3 linked regions of the Homo sapiens genome follow. The protein of the gene in region 3 interacts with the protein of the main gene of each other region in a biochemical or structural test. Each region holds a gene or a part of one and is shown on either strand. Other genes may lie near its edges.

What was found. Proteins that work in one complex are often made in the same cells at the same time.
Region 1: of the proteins of EIF5A (region 3) and SENP1, one has a biochemical effect on the other in vitro, tested with the Homo sapiens proteins (one study listed by BioGRID).
Region 2: the proteins of EIF5A (region 3) and XPO4 form a complex in vitro, tested with the Homo sapiens proteins (one study listed by BioGRID).

What each region holds. Positions count from the first base shown.
Region 1 is NC_000012.12:48,061,059-48,068,081, forward strand, and holds part of SENP1 (sentrin-specific protease 1), read right to left. Parts: intron 5,908-7,023; coding exon 5,869-5,907; intron 4,623-5,868; coding exon 4,538-4,622; intron 4,163-4,537; coding exon 4,007-4,162; intron 2,784-4,006; coding exon 2,652-2,783; intron 1-2,651. UniProt on the Homo sapiens protein: Protease that catalyzes two essential functions in the SUMO pathway.
Region 2 is NC_000013.11:20,899,726-20,907,448, reverse strand, and holds the start of XPO4 (exportin-4), read left to right. Parts: upstream 1-4,702; 5' UTR 4,703-4,710; coding exon 4,711-4,779; intron 4,780-7,723. UniProt on the Homo sapiens protein: Mediates the nuclear export of proteins (cargos), such as EIF5A, SMAD3 and isoform M2 of PKM (PKM2). In the nucleus binds cooperatively to its cargo and to the GTPase Ran in its active GTP-bound form.
Region 3 is NC_000017.11:7,303,574-7,310,631, forward strand, and holds the start of EIF5A (eukaryotic translation initiation factor 5A-1), read left to right. Parts: upstream 1-4,054; 5' UTR 4,055-4,179; intron 4,180-4,395; exon of another isoform or gene 4,396-4,560; intron 4,561-4,799; exon of another isoform or gene 4,800-5,002; intron 5,003-5,397; exon of another isoform or gene 5,398-5,542; intron 5,543-6,041; coding exon of another isoform or gene 6,042-6,062; coding exon 6,063-6,227; coding exon of another isoform or gene 6,228-6,714; exon of another isoform or gene 6,715-7,058. UniProt on the Homo sapiens protein: Translation factor that promotes translation elongation and termination, particularly upon ribosome stalling at specific amino acid sequence contexts.

The DNA of each region.
Region 1 (7,023 bases), on a different chromosome or scaffold from region 3:
TCTTTTAGGAACAGGGTATCCTAATGGCTTTCCATACATATCCCAAACATAGGATTTCTGGATTTTATTTTCCTTATAAACTGAATCTGATTCCTTTTACTTCCTTGCTCTTATATTACTTTTTAACTCTGAAAGCCTACAAAGTATGGTACTTTGTTTATAAAATGATAAGAACAATGTATCAGTCACCTATTTTGGAGAAAGTTTTAATACATCTTATAAAGCAGGAAACAGAAAAAGAAGAGAAATTATTATTAATGAAAATATCTACTTGAGGGAAGAAGAGGATTGAACAGAGGACAAATCATTTGCAAAAGACTGATAGTTCACAACTGAGAAACAGAATTAAGTTTTGTATTCTTTTGAAGACACAGAGTCTTGCTCTGTCACCCAGTCTAGAGTACAGTGGCTCAGTCATAGCTCACTATAAACTCAAACTCCTAAACTCAAGCAATCCTCCTGCTTCAGCCTCCTGAACAGCTGGGACTACAGGCATATGCCACCATGGCTGGCTAATTTTTAATTTTTTTGTAGAGATCGGGTCTTGCTATGTTGCCCAGGCTGCTCTTGAACTCCTGGCCTCAGGTGATCCTCTCACCTTAGCCATCCAAGGCACTGGGATTATAGGCATGACCCACTGTGTCTGGCCAAAATTAAGTATTCTTCAATGAGTATCAATACTTAAGGATACCTAATAATACTCCATCAGGATGTTAGCTTCTCAAGGGCAGTAACTTTGAAAGCCTACGAAGTATGGTACTTTGAAAATGGTGCTTTTTAAGATAGCTCCCATCATTATTATGGACATGTGAACTGGCACTCATTTTCAAGGATAACATCATTCTGAACTGAGAAGAAATGCACTCCTTCTACAAAAGTTATGGCTAGGGGTGGTAGGGATAAAGTAGACAAAGAATCTTTCCTTCTTCTCATCTCCTCTAAAATAATGTAATTTCCATTAACTTAGCTTGCTAAAAATCCAGCCTCTGATGGGCCCAGGGAATGGAAAATATGTCCTGATGAATGCTGTCTCTGTAAGGAATCTCACTGAGGTAAATGCCACAGTAAATAGCAAGAACTCAGCTCATATCCTACTGATTGCTGCCCTCTAGGAGGTTTTCCATGATTTACAACAAACTAAAGCCTACTATCCCTTTAGAGTAACTGACCTCGCACCACCAGCAATGGCAGGAAATAAATGGCAAAGGACCACAGATCAAAAATAACTTATCAGTGGATACTTATAACTATCCTTGATTTAATTTCCTCCTTTGATTTGGTGAGCTCTTTTTTTCCATTATTTGAACCAATGTTCTAATATCTGAGCCAAAAGAGGCAAAGAGGGTTTCTTCTAAAGAAAGACAGTAACAAACCATGCCTTCCTTATTATTCTTGGTCACAGATATTATTCAGGGAGTGATGAGCTTCTGAAATTTTTATCTTATAAACCAACCAGTGGCAAAAAGAATGGGGCTGGCCCCAGAGAAAAAAAGCATCCTGGACATGATATATGGCTCCTAAGTTCTATATATCTGATCCTAAGACCAGTATCCAATTTAAGATTCTGAGGTAGTTAAGATATAGTAGATAAGACCCAATGCTTGGGTCTTAATCTTGGCTCTGCTGTTTACTAGCTGTATAACCTTGCAAGTTTTTAAATCTTTCTATGCCTTGTTTCTTTATCTGCAGAATGGTGAACTATCATATCTACTTCCAAAGATATGATGACTATTACAAGAATAAAACACATAAAACATGAATCGTACTAATGAGGTAAATGATCAATAGTTATTGGCAAATATTATTTGGAAGGTCTTGATCATACAAAAACAGGATATGGATATCTAAAATATTTAATGATTACTACACTGAGAAACTAAAAATCCTCCACAGCTGTGAAGCTTGAGTATACCCAGATTAGCCAGGGATGCTTATGCAAAGAAGGTACTTAGGAAAAGATACCCAACCCAGTTTTCTTTTGCTGTAAAAATAACCTTCTAAAATAAAACAGGTACCTACAGGTTTAGGCTTAGGAACAGATCAGTTTAAAAACTGTAGTGTAATTAATATACTTAAAATAAATTGGAGTTAGGAGGTGAAGACCGTAACTTCTCCCCCAATACCTCAAATATTTAATAATAATATAACTTTTTCAATGTCCATTTAAAAAATATCATACATAAATGGAGGCGATTTTGGAAAGCTTGTCATTCGTAATATAAGTGATCTAAAATGAGTAGAACTTAGGTAGAAAGGGAAGTAAAACTGGATTCCTATAAAGAAATCCCACAGTATTCCCTCATGCTGCAACATGGTCGGCTAATACTTATTTGTTCAGAAGAGATGAACTGCAGAATAGGAGCCTTAAAGAGTGAGAATACCAATGAGTGAATGTCTTCTTCAATGTTCAAATCTTCAACAAGAAAAGGTAAATTCAGTGGTTCTCAGACTTTAAAATACACCTGAGATGTTTGTTAAAAATGCCTGTCTCCACCACACTCCCTCATAGTTACAAGAATGAAGAGGCCTATGAGAGATGATTCCAATGCAGGTCATCCATGGACCACATTTTGAGAAAAAGTGAGATAATGCCTTAATTTAACTGCCACTTAATGTTTACTATTTGTATGTAAAAATAGATGCAACATTACCTCATCATTGAGCCAATTCAGATGGTTTAGAGTTTGAATATCTTTGCGTGTAATGGTCAGGCGAAATGCTTCACTGAGAACTTCATCCTGATTCCCATTACGAAATACATTCTTTATTTCTTTCTCCATTTCCTAAGAAAACAAAAGGTGTCAAGACATCAAACACGCGTGGCTTCAGAAAAACCGTATTTCTCACCAAACCCCATATAATCCTCAGACTATATTTATCACCATTCGATTGTTTATAAATTTACTGTTAATCAGTTTACTTCTAACATTTTGGTTTCTATTCCTTCCCAGTAATCCCCGATTACTTCTTTCCACTTCATCTAGTCCTCCCTTCTCTTTTTCAGCACAACATTCAGATCCTTGTTTCCATATTAATTCCTAAAGTCTGGAACAACCTTCCGCTATCAAATTTTCTAAGCACATGAGAAAAATTAACTGTATTTTATATCTCTGGTCCAAATGACTTCCTGAGAAACAGAATTTTTCATAAAAGGTAGTAAGAGAGTAAAGGCAGTATCTTTTAGAAATTACTTTCTTAGAGATCTTTTTTTTTAAATGTAAAGTATGGAATTCAGTACAACTATAATAAGTGTGTTATGCTCACCAGCTACATGGTAGTGTTTCAAAGAGAAGTATGGATAAAGAAACGGATTATCTAAAAATGTACACAGACCTCCATGTATTTTCCAAATTTTCTATAATGGGTTTTATTACTTAAAAAAAGAGCAAATCTCAGCTTACAATTTGAGGTCAAACTATTGTATGTGTGCATTAAGTAAAAATGCACATGACATGAAAGACAAATGTATTAAATGCTTCTTCACTGAAACTGTTAAAAGCCACCCATAGTTCTTTCATAAATTTTCAATATTTTAAAAATAAAGCCCAGATTGGTATATAAAATAAGCGAAAGCTGAAATATACAAGAAAATTTAAATAACACGTGTTCTATGGCTTTTTGTGTGTGTGTGTATGTGAGATGGAGTCTTGCTCTGTCACCCAGGCTGAAGTACGGTGGCATGATCTCGGCTCACTGCAACCTCTGCCTCCCGGGTTCAAGCAATTCTCCTGCCTCAGCCTCCTGTGTAGCTGGGATTACAGGTGCATGCCACCACACCCAGCTAATTTTTGTATTTTTGGTAGAGATGGGGTTTTACCATGTTGGCCAGGCTGGTCTCGAACTCCTAACCTCAAGTGATCCACCCGCTTCAGTCTCCCAAAGTGATGGGATTACAGGCGTGAGCCACCGTGCCTGACCACTATTGCTTTTATGTTTGAAACTCATCCGAGGGATTCTTTCTAAACATGATACTTAGTAGTGTAGAAATTAAGTGTATGTAACTTACCTCTGTAATTTCAGGAAATTCATCTTCACTATCAGTTAATTTATGACCTTTTTTTTGTGTTTCTTGGACAACAGTAACAGGAATCTCCTTTTCAAGAGGTACACGAAGATGTAGTTCTACTGAATCATGTACTGAATGTTCCCGCTCCTGCAATCTCTGAAAGATAAAACTTCAGAGTAAGTGGGATAAAGAAATCTGTGGATGTTCCTTGATTTATGATAGGGTTATGTCCCAATAAACCTGTCATAAGTCAAAGAGCGTGCTTAAATGCCCATTGCTTTCGCTTTTTTGTAAAGTCAAAAAATCATTAGTCGAACCATCACAAGTAGGGGACTATCTATATTTGTCTTATGTACAATGAGTAGCACTGACTGGACAGACCAAGAACATTTACGACATATCATAACATGCTATGCTACCATACGATCTTGGAATTACAACAGCAATTACCCAAATCTGGGTAACTTTCCAAAATAGTTTCTACTTTGATGTACTATTTATTTGTAATATTATTCCAATTTTCTTTTTTACCTGGTTTTGAAGCTGTAAGGCCAATGCCTTCTGTTCTTCAATCTGGCGCAATCTTTCTCGTGCTCGAGAATCATAAACACTAGTTCTAGAAAATGAAAAGGAACGTGACCAAATGTAGACCACTCTCATTATGAAACATATTGTTGATGTACACTGAATATTAAATACAGGACCCTCACAAAGAAAGTCTAAAATCCTTACACTAACTTATCATCCTTATTTTAAGACATAGAGTGAAACCACATAATGTTACTGAAATTACTCTACCATTTTTACTTATTATTTTTTATAGAGATAGGGTCTCACTACAGTGCCCGGGCTAGTCTCAAACTCCTGGGCTCAAGCGACCCCCCTACCTTGGCCTCTCAAAGTGCTAGGATTACAGATGTGAGCCATTGCACCCGACCTATTTTTACTGAAATTACTAAAAATATTAGTGTGCTGCTAAATGTGAACAGATGACTTGTTAACATTTGTAAACACACAGTTCTTTTCTTAACATGCTTTTAAGATTATAGTGAAAGCGAAACTTCAGTCTGGAAATCCAAAAATGGGATTGAACCCTAAAGGAGAAACGAATACAAGATATCACTGAAGTTTAATTCAAATACTTCATTTTTGATAGATTTTTAAAAAATTACCGAGACCGAGGGGTTTGGATAACTTAAGTTCCTTAAGTGAGACTAAATGCTTTCAGTGATTTTGCAAAGTCCAGAAATATGAATTATTCAATAAATTAGTTTTACAAATGCCAAAATAGGATCATTTATTTTCCCTATTATATAATAGCTAACTCTATTTTTCCAATTTAATTTAGCTTCAACAATTGTTATAGATTTAATAAACATAAGTATAGAAATGTTCCAACTCCAACAATATTTTGAAAACCCAACAACTTAAAAGTATAAACAGGCACTTCTTTTTTTTTTTTTTTGAGATGGAGTCTTACTCTGTTGCCCAGGCTGGAGTGCAGTGGCGTGATCTCGGCTCACTGCAACCTCCACCTCCCAGGTTCAAGCAATCCTCCCGCCTCAGCCTTCCAAGTAGCTAGGATTACAGGCGCGTGCCACCATGCCCAGCCAATTTTTGTATTTTTAGTAGAGATGAGGTTTCACCATGAAGGCCAGGCTGGTCTTGAACTCCTGACCTCAGATGATCCACCTGCCTCAGCCTCCCAAAATGCTGGAATTACAGGCGTGAGCCACCGCGCCCAGCCTAAACAGGTACTTCTTATTGGCAAAAAATAAGCAGGATGATTAGCTAATTGTTTGATTTCTTCTAACTAAAAATGAACTGATTGAGAAGGAAAAATGATACCAAAAATAACTTACAATTCTTTGATCCACAGCTCTGCCTGGAAGAAAGTAGAACTATGGGTAGGAAAAGAAAAATTTGACAAATGAGCAGGAGGCTTATGAGAAAATTAAAATATTTTCATCAATAAAAACAATCATTTAAATTGTTTATATGAGTGCTTTACAAGTATGGAATAAGTAAAAGGAATCTAAATGACATAAAATAATTGTAACTAGGAATTAAGGAGACACAATCCTTATGCATACATATTAGTTAAAATCATATGGATACATATTAGTTAAAAAGGTGACCCAAAGTTCAGCAGAGATACTACATTTGGCATAGCTCCCTACTTGCATGAGACCAACATTACGTGAAAGAGGACATCACTTCTCAAAATAATACATTAAGCTAGAACATTGCTCTTCCCAAATGACTCAGATTGAAAGATTTATTAAAAATCCCCACACACAAAATAATCTACATCAAATGGCTAACAAGCCAATGAGCCAAAGCAGAGAATCAGCAACACAACTTCCTTCCAAAGATGACAGGCCAATTCTAGGTCCATGTGGCTCTGCTGACAACCCAAGTGATATGCTGAGCAGAGCCACAGACATGATTAATTGTCCTAGAGCCTCTTGTTTTTCTCAAACTTCCTTATCTCCAAACTCCTAACTAGGCAGGATCTATCACAGAAACACAAAGAAGAAGAGTGAACACTTTTCCAAAGAAAACTATTAAATATAGAGAACAAGTAAACAGAGCATCAAATTGGGAGTTAAGAGACCTGGATCAGAGGCCAGGCATGGTGGCTCATTCCTGTAATCCCAGTGCTTTAGGACGCTGAGGTGGGAGAATCGCTTGAGCCAAGAGTTCAAGACCAGCCTGGGCAACATAGTGAGATTCTGTCTCTTAAAAAAAAAAAAATGATCTGCAACTAGAATAGTGCTTGGCACAGAGTAGGCATTTAGTGTTGTTTGTTTGTTTTTTGACTCTCACTCTGTTGCCCAGGCTGGAGTACAGTGGCACAATCTCGGCTCACTGCAACCTCCACCTCTCGGGTTCAAGAGATTCTCCTGCCTCAGCCTCCTGAGTAGCTGGGATTACAGGCACCCGCCACCACACCTGGCTAATTTTTTCTTTTTTTTATTTTTATTTTAGTAGAGACGAGGTTTCACCATGTTGGC
Region 2 (7,723 bases), on a different chromosome or scaffold from region 3:
CGGAGGCAGGGGAATCGCTTGAACCCGGGTGGCGGAGGTTGCAGTGAGCCGAGACCACACCACTGCACTCCAGCCTGGGTGGCAGAGTGAGACTCCGTATCAAAAAATAAATAAATAAATAAACAAAAATTAGCCAAACGCGGTGGTATGCACCTGTAGTCCCAGCTACTTGGGAGACTGAGACAGGAGAATCACTTGACCCTGGGAGGCAGAGGTTGCAGTGAGCCAAGATTGCGCCACTGCACTCCAGCCTGGCAACAGAGGGAGATTCCGTCTCAAAAAAAAAAAAAAAAAAAAAAGCGTATGACAAGGCTGCAATTACCCTCTCCACCTCTGCCCCAGGAGAGTGTTGTTATTGAATAATAAATCAAGGAATAACAAGAGTCAGGCATTGGAGGAAAGTTAACTGATAGGCAAATTCTAGGGTGTTTTCCAACATTGAGATCCTACAATTTCAGCTCTGCCCTGAAATTCATGGCTTCATTATGTGAGATGTCTATACCTCACTTCATAAAGTCTCAAAATTCAAAATACTGTTAATTTGAAAGGAAGCAAATTAATCCTCACATTTGATAAAAATATATCCCTTCCCTTTTATTTTTATTTTCATTTATTTATTTATTTTTTGAGATGGAGTCTCTGTCGCCCAGGCTGGAGTACAGTGGTGCGATCTCGGTTCACTGCAACCTCTGCCTTCTGGGTTCAAGTGATTCTCCTGTCTCAGCCTCCCGAGTAGCTGGGACTACAGGCGCCCGCCACCACGCCTGGCTAATTTTTTAGTAGAGACGGGGTTTCACCGTGTTAGCCAGGATGGTCTTGAACTCCCAAACTCAGGTGATCCACCCGCCTCGGCCTCCCAAAGTGCTGGGATTACAGGCGTGAGCCACTGTGCCTGGCCTTTTTTTTTTTTTTTTGAGATGTAGTCTCACTCCGTCACCCAGGCTGGAGTGCAGTGGTGCAATCTCAGCTCACTACAACCTCCGCCTCCCGGGTTCAAGCGATTCTCCTGCCTCAGCCTCCTGAGTAGCTGGGATTACAGGCACGCACCACCATGCCTGGCTAAATTTTGTACTTAATAGAGATGGAGTTTTACCGCATTGGCCAGGCTGGTCTTGAACTCCTGACCTCAAGTGATCCACCTGCCTTGGCCTCCGGAAGTTCTGGGATTACAGGCACGAGCCACTGCACCTGGCCTATTTTTTGTTTGTTTGTGTTTAGAGGCAGGGTCTCACTTTGTGGTCCGGGCTGGAGTGTAGTGGCACAATCACAGCTCACTACAGCCTCTATCTCCCTGGCTCAAGTGATCCTCCCACCTCAGCCTCCTGAGTCACTGGGACCATAGGCATGCACCACCACACTTGGCAAATTTTTTAATTTTTATTGTTTTGTAGAGATGGGGTCTCGCTATGTTGCCCAGGCTGGTCTTGAACTCCTGGGCTCAAGCAATCCTCCTGCCTTAGCCTCACAAAGTGCTGGGATTACAGGCGAGAGCCACCGCATCCAACACTTCTTTCTTTTCTTTCTTTTTTTTTTTTTGAGATGGAGTCTCTCTCTGTTGCCCAGGCTGCAGTGCAGTGGCACAATCTCAGCTCACTGCAACCTCTGGCTCCCAGGTTCAAGCGATTCCCCTGCCTCAGCCTCCTGAGTAGCTGAGATTACAGTCCTGTGCCACCTCGCCTGGCTAATTTTTAGTGGAGACAGGGTTTCACCATGTTGGCCAGGCTGGTCTTGAATGCCTGCCCTCAAGTGATCTGCCTGCCTTGGCCTCCCAAAGTGTTGGGATTACAGGCATGAGCCACTGCGCCTGGCCTTCTCTTTTTTTTTGAGATGGAGTTTCACTCTTGTTGCCCAGGCTGGAGTGCAGTGGCGCGATCTTGGCTCTCCGCAACCTCCGCCTCCTGGGTTCAAGTGATTCTCCTGCCTCAGCTTCCCGAGTAGCTGGGATTACAGGCATGTGCCACCACACCTGGCTAATTTTGTATTTTTTTTTTTTTTTTTAGTAGACATGGGGTTTCTCCATGTTGGTCAAGCTGGTCTCAAACTCCTGATCTCAGGTGATCCGCCCACCTGGGCCTCCCAAAGTGCTGGGATTACACACGTAAGCCACTGCACCTGGCCCTCTTTCTTAAAACACGTGTAGTTGCAAAGTTCTAATGTAATTGCACAAAATAAATACTTTGGAACCCAAGGCCCAATCTGAAGCATTATAAGCCTCAAACATTTACTGTCACAAACTGTTTATCTACATATTTGCACAATATCATTGATCTTTGGTAATTACTCTTTGCAGCAACTAGAATCATTTTGTAATTTTCTTGTAGATTGCTATACTTGGTCAAATATTTACTGAGTGCCTACTATATGTCAGGCCCTATGATAAACACTTAGTTACTAAAAAGGACCATTAACTGCATTTTGGCTCACTTTAAACTTCAGTAATAAAATAAAACTTACTTAGTTTCTCAAGCAATACAAACCTTGTTAATTCATTTTCTCTACTTCAAGTTGCAGAGACTTCAAGTACAAGAAACAACATATTTTCCAACGGAGCTAATAATGCAGTTCCGTGTGGCCGGGCACAGTGGCTCATGCCTGTAATCCCAGCATTTTGGGAGGCTGAGGCAGCGGATCGCCTAAGGTCAGGAGTTCAAGACCAGCCTGGCTAACATGGTGAAACCCCGTCTCTGCTAAAAATACAAAAATTAGCCAGGTGTAGTGGTGCACACCTGTAATCCCAGCTACTCTGGAGGCTGAAGCACGAGAATCGTTTGAACCCAGGAGGCAGAGGTTGCAGTGAGCTGAGATGGCACCATGGCACTCCAGCCTGGGTGACAGAGAGAGACTCCATAACACACACACACACACACACACACACACACACACACACACACACACACACAGACATTCTGTTGCAGTGACATAAAACCTCAACAGTATGGCTTTCTTATAACTAGGAATAAGAAACAGGAAGATTTCAACAAAAAATAAACTTAAAAATACTGAAACGAATTTGACTGTCTGTGTTGTTTCAGAAGGCTGAATAAGCACCAAAAAGAAGTTATAGGAATGTAGACCGTAGATGTCAGCTCAAAACGAAACAAACCCCTGATCCGAACAACCTAACAGCACTGGTTTGAATACTGAAACAGCTGTCAGGACCACTTGCGTGGAATGTCCTAGAGGCAACTGGAGCACCGGAGGGAAGGTTAATTACTTGATACTCTAATATGCCTTTCAACACGGATTCCACAAACACGACAATGCTGATTTTTGTCCTTTTTTTTTTTTTTCCTGAGACAGGATCAGCCTCTCACCCAGGCTGGAGTGCCGTGGTGTGATCTCGCCCCACTGCACTCTCGACCTCCTGGGCAATCCTTCCGCTTCAGCCTCCCGAGAAGCTCGGACCACAGGCGCAAGACACCACACCGGGCTTTTTTTTTTTTTTTTTTTGGTAGAGACAGGGTCTCACGATGTTGCCCAGGCTGGTCTCGAACTCCTGAGCTAAAATGAGGCCTGCCTTGGCCTCCCAAAGTGCTGGGATTACAGGCATGAGCCACAGCGCCTGGCCGACAAAGCTCATCTTACTGCATTTGAGAAGCCAGGTAGTCAAGGTCAGGCTTTCCTGTCCCTGCTTTCTCCCTCTCCTATGTGAGCCAGCCCTTAAAGAGTGAAAACGGCAAGAGCCAAAGACGGGTTTTCCTCCTAGGGTCTCCTAGCGACCCGCTGCCCAGATACATTTGGATGATTGTCCTGCAGAAGGCCAAAGCCCTCCATTATGAAAACGAAGCGTTCGGCCGGGGGCGGTGGCTCACGCCTGTAATCCCAGAACTTTGGGAGACCGAGGCGGGCGGATCACCTGAGGTCAGGAGTTCGAGACCAGCCTGGCCAACATGGTGAAACTTCGTCTCTACTAAAAGTACAAAAATTAGCCGGGCGTGGTGGCGGGCGCCTGTAATCCCAGATACTCAGGAGGCTGAGGCAGGGGAATCGCTTGAACCCGGGAGACGGAGGTTGCAGTGAGCCGAAATAGGGCCATTGCACTCCATCCTGGGCGATAGAGTGAGACCCTGTCTCCAAAAAAAAAAAAAAAGAAAGAAAGAAAACGAAGCGTTCTATCCTGGAATGTTCTCCCATGGCAAGAAGGAACAGAGAAGCAGGAGACAGAGATACTTTGAAAGGAGGTGCGCTCTGAGGAGGGGAAAGCGGGAAGAGCGATTCCAAGTTTAGGAAATCCTGCACGGCGCTGGAGCGTGGAAGGGCAAGGAGGAGCCAGGGGAGGCGGTGTGCAGGGCTGAGAACGGAGGGAGCGAACTGGCGTCGTGGATCTGCGGGTCCCCGGGCGGGCTGTACTAGGGTAGTGGGGAGAGGGCCGGGGGCACCGCGAGGCCGGGGCGCCGGACACCACGCATGCGCGGGGCTGGGAGCTTAGCGGGGCGCGCGGCTGCAGCAGTCTGGGCAGACCGCCTCGGCCTCGCCCGGTGCCGGCTGCGGCCGCCCCCGCCCCAGCGCGGCGGCCGGGCTCACACTAGTCCCCTCCCAGCCACCCGGAACCCGGCAGCCCGGCCAGACCCGCCGAGGCCGCGACGCCGGTGTCGACAGCGGCTGCGACGGCCCTGGGAGCGCGTGAGGCTCCGGGGTCGCGGCGGCGATTGGCCGGCCGCGGCGCCCGCTCCCAGAATGCAGCGCATGGCGCGTCATTGAAGAGAGACCATGATGGCGGCGGCGCTGGGGCCCCCAGAAGTGATCGCTCAGCTGGAGAACGCGGCTAAAGTTCTGATGGTGAGGACGCCGCGCCCCTCAGACCCCGGGATTCGCGGGCCCCCGGTCGGCCCTGCCACTCCAGGCCTTGCTGCTCGCTGGGCTGGCGACTGGCAAGGGCCTGCAGGGAGCCTGGAAGTGGAGGAGGAGGTGGCGGTGGCGTGGCGCAGGATTCTTCAGCCTACTTTCCTCCTGCCGTCGTCCCCTCCTTCCAGGAGCTGTCCCCTTCCCCTGGCTGCCCAGCACCCCAGTCGGGCGTGGGAATATAGTGGTGTAGCAAAGAGAATTTCTTCACCTTACACCCTGCCCCACAGACTGGGTCGCAGAGCAAGGCGCCGGGAAGGAGTTGGGGTTATCCCCGCAGGGCTTCGGTAGGGGAAATTTGTAGGGCTGTGTGAGCGCTCTTGGGGAGTTGGTGTCGGGAGGGATTGGATGGCACAGCCTGGGTGCTGTTAGCAACCCTTGTTTCCTGTGCATTCGCATCCTCTAGCGCTTCCCTGACATGCAGCCACCTCTGGAGTAATTGCAGCCGGCAGCACGTGGAAGGGCCGGGCCGGCTGGAGGGAGGGAGGGGAATCGTTGAGACCAAGGTCATTGGGGCAAAACTTGGTCTAGTGCTAAGCTCCTTAAAGCTCCCGCGATTTGGAGAACTGAGTCTATGCTACTCTTTGACTTCATGCTTACACTACAATAAGCAGTTTGATGAGATTGTTTACTAAGGGAATTTGAGAAGGCCGAGTCAAAGGATAAAAGTATTACATGCAAGGAGGAGAAGTAAGGATAAACTACGTTCAGTTAGTAAACAGTGTTTCTATTTGCTGGCTCAGCTTTGTTTTTGCAAATTATGACTTCGGTGTTTGTAGATGTTTTGGGAAGTTAGAGGTTCATTTGATACCTGGATTGATTCAGACTTTCTAAGAATTGGATACAGCCAGCTTTGTTACCTTTTTGGACTTTTTTCCTTTTGGTTTGGTGTTAGGGTGTTTGAGCATCACATTTGAGAATATTCGAACTAATTCTAGCGTAGTTTGTAGTTCTAATATTTTACACCAGATATTTTTGTTTCTTTAGAAATCGAGAAGTCTAATAAAAGCAGGATTTACTTGCTTCATTATGAATATTAACTTAATGTACGTTTTGTCACAAAACAGACTAGTGAAGGTTTTCACACTTTTGCAAATTAAGCAGAAGTAACTAGCTAGTATTCCCCTTAATAAAAGATTCTTAAAAATCCCTGACATAGAGCGTTTTGTAAAATTCCTGAAATTTTCCTAGGAGCTAGGGGCTCCGTTTTCATTGGATTCTGGAAGGAGTATGCCACCCAAAACACGGCTGTAGTTCTTACACTGATCAGGTAAAATCAGTGTCCTTCGTCACTGGCTTAATATAAACTAGTATTTGTGTTTTCCAATATCTTCCCTCTTCCCTGGCAAAGCTGCTTTTATCCCCTATAAGGAGTAGGTGAGAAGAATAGTAGTAAGTACCGTTTATTGAGTGCTAGATATTGGGCTTGATGCTTTACATACTTTACATATTTTATTAATTCTTGCAACAGCTTTGCTTTACAAGGTTGAGAAACTGTAAGTGGCCCGGGTTACACGATTACTAAATGGCTGAATTAGGTCTTGAACTCAGTTCTGTCTGGCTCTAAAGCTGTGTGTCTTTCCACTCTACCCCATCTGTCATATGTTGTATAAATAATTTGTCTAAATGCTTTTTATCTTTTCAGAGGAGAGTAGTATTGAAAAAAGTGTCATGTTATTAAAAACAGGAAATTACAGCCGGGTGCGGTGGCTCATTCCTGTAATCCCAGCACTTTGGGAGGCCGAGGTGGGCGGATCACTAAAGATTAGGAGCCCAAGACCAGGCTGGCCAACACGGTGAAGCCCCATCTCTACTAAAAATATAAAAATTAGCCGGGCGTGATGGCTGGCACCTTTAATCTCAGCTACTCTGGAGGCGAAGACAGGAGAATCGCTTGAACCAGGAGGCAGAGGTTGGAGTGAGCCGAGATCGTGCTGCTGCACTCCAGTCTGGGCGACAGAGTGAGACTTCATCTCAAAAAAAAAAAAAGGAAATGACTTTTTGGAAATTTCCACTTAAGTATTCAGAAATTTGTACCAAAGATGTGTAGAGTAGTTATTGTATTATTTCTTAATATGAAAGCTATATTCCAAATTATTAATAGCTACCATTTATTGAGTACATACTATGTTGGAGGCGCTGTGCCAAGCCCTTTACATATATTACTTTTTATCTCCAGTAACTCTGTGAGGTAGGTATTATTACTTTCATCTTCTTTTTTTTTTGACCAAGTCTCACTCTGTTGCCCAGGCTGGAGTGCAGTGGCACGATCTTGGCTCACTGCCACCTCCGCCTCCCGGGTTCAAGCGATTCTCCTGCCTCAGCCTCCCGAGTAGCTGGGACTACAGGTATGTACCACCACACCCAGCTAATTTTGTATTTTTAATAGAGACAGGGTTTCACCATGTTGGCCAGGCTGGTCTCGAACTCCTGACCTCGTGATCCACCTGCCTCGGCCTCCCAAAGTGCTTGGATTACAGGCGTGAGCCACTGCACCTGGCGTGTTACTTTCGTTTTCATTTTACAGGCTAAGGAAACTCCAACATGTAGATGCTAAGTAATCTACACAAATTTACATAGCAAGGGGTAGAGACTCAAACTCTGGTTTGTCTGTTACCAGTCTGTGGTTCTTAAGCTGTAGGATACTGGGACCAGAAAGGAGGTAAATTAATTCATCTTTGGCTAATTAAGGTTGTTAATGCTCCGTCAATTATTAAGCATTAAGCTACATATTTTAAACAGAGTGATCTTAGCATTTATCCATCTGTGGGTCTGAATATATCTTATGGAAAATTGCTGTATTTTAACTGTTAATATGCTTTGAGATTCAAAATGCAAATAGTGATGTATTTCATAATTATTTTTGCTTAATTTTTCATTA
Region 3 (7,058 bases):
TAGCCAGGCGTGGTGGCAGGTGCCTGTAATCCCAGCTACTCAGGAGGCCGAGGCAGGAGAATCGCTTGAACCCGAGAGGCGGAGGTTGCAGTGAGCTAGATCGTGCCACTGCACTCCAGCTCGAGTGACAGGGCAAGAATCCGTCTCAAAAAAAAAAAAAAGTAATAATGTTGCTTTGAACATTTATGTACAACATTTCTGTTTTTTTCTTTTCTTCTTTTTTTTTTTTTGACAGGGTTTTACTCTGTTACCCAGGCTGGAGTGCAGTGGTGTGATCACAGCTCACTACAGCCTTGAACTCCTAAGCTCAGGCAATCCTCCTGCTTCAGCCTCCCCAGTAGCTGGGACTACATGTACATATGACCACGCCTGGTTAATTTTTGTGTGTGTGTGATGGAGTTTTGCTCTTGTTGCCCAGGCTGGAGCACAACGGCATGATCTCGGCTCATTGCAACCTCTGCTTCAAGCTATTCTCCTGCCTCAGCCTCCTGAGTAGCTGGGATTACAGGCATGCGCCACCACACTAGGCTAATTTTGTATTTTTAGTAGAGATGGGGTTTCTCCATGTTGGTCAGGCTGGTCTCAAACTCCCGACCTCAGGTGATCCACCCGTCTCAGCCTCCCAAAGTGTTGGGATTGCAGGCGTGAGCCACTGCGCCCGGCTATTCTAGATGTTTTCTAAGAGTGGAATCATAGAATATGTGACCTTTTGCATCTTGACTTTTTTCACTTAGCATAATGTTTTCCAATATTCATCCAGTTATAGCACGTACTTCATCTCTTTTTATGGCTAAATAATATTCCACTGTATAGATATACCACATTTTAAAAATCCATTCATCTATTGACAGACATTTGGGTTCTTTCCACCTTTTTTGCTACTGTGAATAACTGCTGCTAATGAACACTCACATGCCCGGATTTGCTTTTTTTTTTTTTTGAGATGGAGTCTTGCTCTGTTGCCCAGGCTGGAGTGCAGTGGCGAGATCTCAGCTCACTGCAAGCTCCACCTCCCAGGTTTGCCATTCTCCTGCCTCAGCCTCCCAAATAGCTGGGATTACAGGCGCCCACAACCAGGCCCGGCTAATTTTTTTATTTTTAGTAGAGGCGGGGTGTCACCGTGTTAGCCAGGATGGTCTCCATCTCCCGACCTCATGAGCCGCCCGCCTCGGCCTCCCAAAGTGCTGGGATTACAGGCGTGAGCCACCGCACCCGGCCCGGATTTTCTTTGAGTACCTGTTTTTAATTCATTGGGAGTATATATACGTTGGAGTGGAATTGCTGGGTCACATGAACAATACATACTTTGCTTTGAGAAAAGCAGGTGTTGGACTTTTGAACAATGTACTCACAAAGTTGTTTGCGTTTTTTTGTTTTTGTTTTTGTTTTTTTTTTTTACAAAGGAAAGGGCATGAATTTCAGAAAATTGAGGGGAAGTAGCTGGGGGTTAGCATAACAGGCTACACAAATGTAGTAATTCAATCTAGTGTTTGCAGTTCACATGTATCGTGTCACAAGACTTTTTTTTTTTCTTTTTTAAGAAACAGGTTCTCTGTTGCCCAGGCTCAAGTGCAGTGGTGGGGATTATAGCTCAATGAAGCCTCGAACTCCTAGACTCAAGCTATCCCTCCACCTCAGCCTCCCAAGAAAGAGTAGCTAGGTCTACAGGCACCAGCCACTGAGCTGAGCTTTTCTTGTTTTTGTTTTTTTAATTTTTTATTTGTAGAGATGGGCCGTTGTTATGTTGCCCAGTCTGGTCTGTAACTGCTAGCCTCACGGGAGCCTCCCACCTTGACCTCCCAAAAAGCTAAGACTACAGGTATGAGCCACTATGCCCAACCCATGTTGCAGAATTTTTGCAACGTCCTGAAAAATTGGGAAGTTCAGGCATCATTATTATTCTCATTTTATGGGAAGAAAATTAAGGCAGAGCTATCTGAAGTAATTCCTTAAAGACACAAAAGAAGGATGAGATCCCAAGATCTTTGGTCGCTTGTTTCTGTCTTTTTTTTTTTTTTTTTTTTTTTGAGATGGCGTATTGCTCTGTCGTGCAGGCTGGAGTGCATTGGCGAGATCTCGGCTCACTGCAATCTCCACATTCTGGGTTCAAGCGATTCTCCTGCCTCAGCCTCCCGAGTAGCTGGGATTACAGGCACGCACCACCACGGCACGGCTAATTTTTGTATTTTTAGTGGGGACGGGGTTTCACCATGTTGGCCAGGTTGGTCTGGAACTCCTGACCCAAGTGATCTGCTCGCCTTGGCCTCCCAAAGTGCTGGGATTACAGGTGTGAGCCACTGCGCCTGGCCGCTTGTTTCAGTCTTGTTATCCAACAAGGCAGCCATGAAGGTAGTGCAAGAAACCCAGGAATTGGAAGAAGACTACGAAGTTTCAGGAAAAGCGAAATGGGGGGCGGAGAGAGGGAGGGCAAAGAAAATAAAGTTGGGAAGATAGCTCGTCTCCAGCTTCATGGTCTCCTATGATTAAGACAATGTCAATGTAATCTAACATACCACTTTTTTTTTTTTTTTTTTTTTTTTGAGACAGAGTCTCTCGCTGTGTCTCCTAGGCTGGAGTGCAGTGGTGCGATGTCGGCTAACTGCAACCTCCGCCTCCTGGGTTCAAGCGATTCTCCTGCCTCTGCCTCCCGAGTAGCTGGTACAGGCGCCCACCTCCACGCCCGGCTAATTTTTTTGTATTTTCAGTAGAGACGGGGGTTTCACTACGTTGGCCAGGCTGGTCTTGAACTCCTGACCTTGTGATCCGCCCGCCTCGGCCTCCCAAAGTGCTGGGATTACAGGCGTGAGCCACCGCTCCCGGCCTACCACTATTTTATTTTATTTATGTATTATTTATTTATGTTTTTGAGACTTGAGTTTCGCTCTTGTTACCCAGGCTGGAGTGCAATGGCGCAATCTCGGCTCACGGCAACCTCCACAGGAGAAGCGATTCTCCTGTCCCAGCCTCCCGAGTAGCTGGGATTACAGGCATGCGCCGCCACGCCCGGCTAATTTTGTATTTTTAGTAGAGACGGGGTTTCTCCATGTTGGTCAGGCTGGTCTCGAACTCCCGACCTCAGGTGATCCGCCCGCCTCGGCCTCCCAGAGTGCTGAGATTACAGGTGTCAGCCACCGCGCCCGGCCCACCACTCATTTTTATAGACAATTTTTTCTAAGGGACCTCGTAGACAATACTTTGGGGAACCGCAGAGCACAGTTGGGGAAAACACAGTAATACCATCTAAGTTTCTTTACTGAGGACCTCAGAGCCGAATGGCCTCTATGGATGCCATAGAGACCAATACGGACTGAGGGTTTAAAGAAGATGGTGTCCGCCGCAGGACCGCTCTATCTTCTCGGGTGAACTCTATGGCAGAGCATAGGCATTCGATTTAGAGAAGTGAAGCCGAGATGGGTGGGAACCCGACCACACTAGCGCGCTAGAAGAGTGGGGCGGAAAGACATCTCCCGCGCATGTGTGGAACTGGGGGGACTGATTCCAAGACAAGGCGCCCACCCCACAGAGCAAGTTTTCTGAAACGTGTGAGTCGTTTAAGTCCAGTTAAAGCCGAGGTGGGGCGTATCCTGAGACGCATGCGTTCTAGACGAGACAAGTGATCTAGCGGCGTGGTCTTTTCAACGCCTGGCGTACTGACGGCGTCTGAGGTGGAAGGGGTTGTTTAGGATTCCGAACACGCATGCGTTCTGAGACCCAGGCGTTTCCTTTAGAGGGTGTGGAGTGCAGGGCTCCTTATTGCGCAGGCGCAAGGACTGCCCGGTAGGACGAGCGGTCTATCAAGGGGAGGGAAGATGAGGTTGAAGAGATTAAAAAACCGGGTGCGCCTGCGCGTTGCAGATTAGTTGAAAACGCTCAGGGTTTGTGAGGGGCGGGGTCACGTATGCGCGTCATTGGACGGGTCGGTGGGAGGGAGGGTGGAGATGGGTAGGGTGTGTGCGCTTGCGCAGTGCGGGGGTGGAGGGCGGAGGAGATAGATAGCACGCTTGCGCGGCTGTCATAGGGCTGCTTGGTTGGTCAGTGGGGAGTCGGCGCCTGCGTACTAAGACCCGTGTGCAGCAGCGGCGGCGGCGGTAGAGGCGGCGGCGGCGGCGGCAGCGGGCTCGGAGGCAGCGGTTGGGCTCGCGGCGAGCGGACGGGGTCGAGTCAGTGCGTTCGCGCGAGGTGAGAGCGGGCAGGGCGCGTGTGCGCGGTACCTTGGCTTGGGCCCGGGAGAAGATGGAACTGCGCGGGGGTCGGGGAGGGGGCAGAGGGGAGCGGCGGCCGCCGCCGCACGGGTTCGGCCAGAGAGCGGCGCGAGGTGAGGAGAGGCGCGGGCGCGCGCCCCGGTTGGCGCGCGGGGTGACGGTTGGGGTTGGCCCGGTGACGTTGGAGCGACGCAGGGCGGGGGACGGCGAGCCGCGAGGCAGCCACGCGGGAGAGGCCGCCAGGCGGCCACGCCGGGGCGAGGGCCAGGGGCCAGATCGGCCCACCGGGGCAAGGGTACCTGGGCCGTTGAGGACCCGGCTCAGCGCGGCCACGTGAGGTGGGGGAGGGGGCTATTCGGTGAGAGGGCATGATGGGGGGGGTTGGCGGACGGCCGGGGGGAGGGGAGGCGGCGTGGCTCCGGCCTGGCGCAGTCTCTGAGGAGGGGGCGGCCGCGGCACCGGAAGTGCCCCCCACGGGAGGCTGCCCTCGGGGTCGCAGGCCGCATGGCCAAGCGTGGACCGGGGCCGCATGGCAGCGCGGGGACCCCTCCCCCCAGGTCCCGGCCACCGGAAGCCCGGAACGGCCACATGGTCGGCAGGAGCCGGCAGCCCCTAGCGCGGGGAGCTAGTCCTCGCGGGGGTTCCGAGGGGGCCTGAGATTTTGAGGAGTGGAAGCCGGAGGCTCGGGTCCTAATCACCCCGGAGGGCCTGCTGCAGGCATATGTTAGCGCTTCCCAACCTCAAGGGCCCCAGGAGCTTTCCTGAAAAACCCTCCTGTGAAGTGTGGCGGTCAGCCAGGTGTAAGTGGCACCCCTTCGAGCTGGGAGGCCGGAGAAATGGGGAAACAGGGCGTTTGGACAGGAGCCCAACTTTTCTGTCGGCCTGGGTGGACAGCGCCTAAAAGCCTCAGGCAGATGAGTTTCCCACCGTGATAGGCGTTCTTCACCTTGTCACTGTCTTCCTGTTGTAACTGGTTTGGGAGTTCCACGGTTTCGAAGTCCTTAACTCTACTAGCCTAGTATGATTTTCTACTACTCACTACTACCAACCTTTTGCTTTCATTTTATTGTCATTCACCACCCCCCACCTCTCCCACTTTCTACTGACTGTACTGGCCCGGCCTGAAAAGCCGACAGGACAGATGCATCCTGGGAAAAGTGGGAGGGCCTTCCAGGAGAGGCTGGGTTCCTGGGTTCTCTTTGGGAACCAAGATCGAGGTGTTTGGCAGGGGGATCATTTCGGAAACAACTTTGCTTTCTCCCCCTTGGCTTGTTGCAAGTGCATGTTGGCGAGGCGGGAATCCCCCAAAGAGGCCTTGTGGTTTCCTGTAGCAGTGACTGGTTTGTGTGTGGATGGGGGGGGGCAGTGTAACAGATGGGTGGGGCCTTGTCCTCCGGTCTCCACCCTCCCCCCCCCCAATTAGCCCTGCCCTTTTGCTGGATCATAGCTGCTCACCTAATTATAGCCCTGGCTATATGTGGGGAAGAGGGGTGGTTGGTTTCAGTGGCAAGTAACACCTGAGTCCTCCCCACTCCCAGGAAGTAGGCCTTTTCTCATCTCTGAGATTTGACATTCCAGCTCCCTAGAGCCTTCCTTTCCCAAGCCACCACTTTAGCTTTGATTTATGGGGGAGAAACCAGCTATTCCACCCTCCCATACACACACCAGTTCTTGAGTATATTTGAGCCCAGTCAGTATTTTAAGTTCAGGAACTTTGACTTTATTTTAGGTGGGTAATGGAATAAAGAGTTGGGAAAATGTTTCTGGAGAGAAATGGGATAGATTGGAGGTCCTGTTGACCTCCATGCTTATTCACTTCAGTTCTCTTCTTGGCTCTAGTTGGAATCGAAGCCTCTTAAAATGGCAGATGACTTGGACTTCGAGACAGGAGATGCAGGGGCCTCAGCCACCTTCCCAATGCAGTGCTCAGCATTACGTAAGAATGGCTTTGTGGTGCTCAAAGGCCGGCCATGTAAGATCGTCGAGATGTCTACTTCGAAGACTGGCAAGCACGGCCACGCCAAGGTTAGAATTTCACCTCCGCATCTTGCCTTCCCCATGCCTCCAGTATCTTTGGCGCTCCCAGCAGCAAGCTGCCAACAGTGCTGACTTTCCTTTAACTCTGCTTTTACTGTCTGATTGTTTTTGTTTAGCGCTCAGCCTTCATACCCATTCAGACAACTACACCTGCTCCCCAGTCTTCAGCCTCTTCTGTGGTTACCCTTCTGTCCCCGCATCATTCTCTGGCAGTCCCTCCGTTTCTCCAGCTTTGTGCCAATCTCTTCAATTCATAGGCCTTTATGCTCTAGCTATTCAGTTGCTCCTTCCTTATTCTTGGTTTTCACTTTTTCTTTCTTCCCTTGAGCCGTTGTTAAGTGGTTGCTTCCATCACGTTGCCCAGGGTTTCTCCAATTCTACGCCTTCCCCTGGAGGGACTCCTGCGTCAATTCTGAGCTTTCAGGTCACCTTGCTGCTTCGTTCCCCAGTTCTAGCTTTCCCTTTGGAACTCTGACGCAGGATCAAACTGCCCCTACCTGCCCCATCCCACTCTCCTTGGGTTCCTTGAGCCTCCATGCTTTCATGGGTTTTAACATTCTTGCTAGCACTTCCCTCATCACCTCAGACTTTTCCTGTCTCTTTAGAATTTCAACCTGATTCGTTCTTGTTGAATTTCTTGTGGTGTTTTTCCTTAATCAGTTTTTCCATCTTTTGACTTGACATTGATCTTGGATTATTCTCTAGTGTCTGGATCCCTCTCTGTGCTCTTCTGGCTTCCTTATTTTCTAGCTACATAGTTATTTCTGATCTCCCTGCAAGTCCTTTTCTTCAGCTCTTTCACATTTCTTAGTTTCTTAT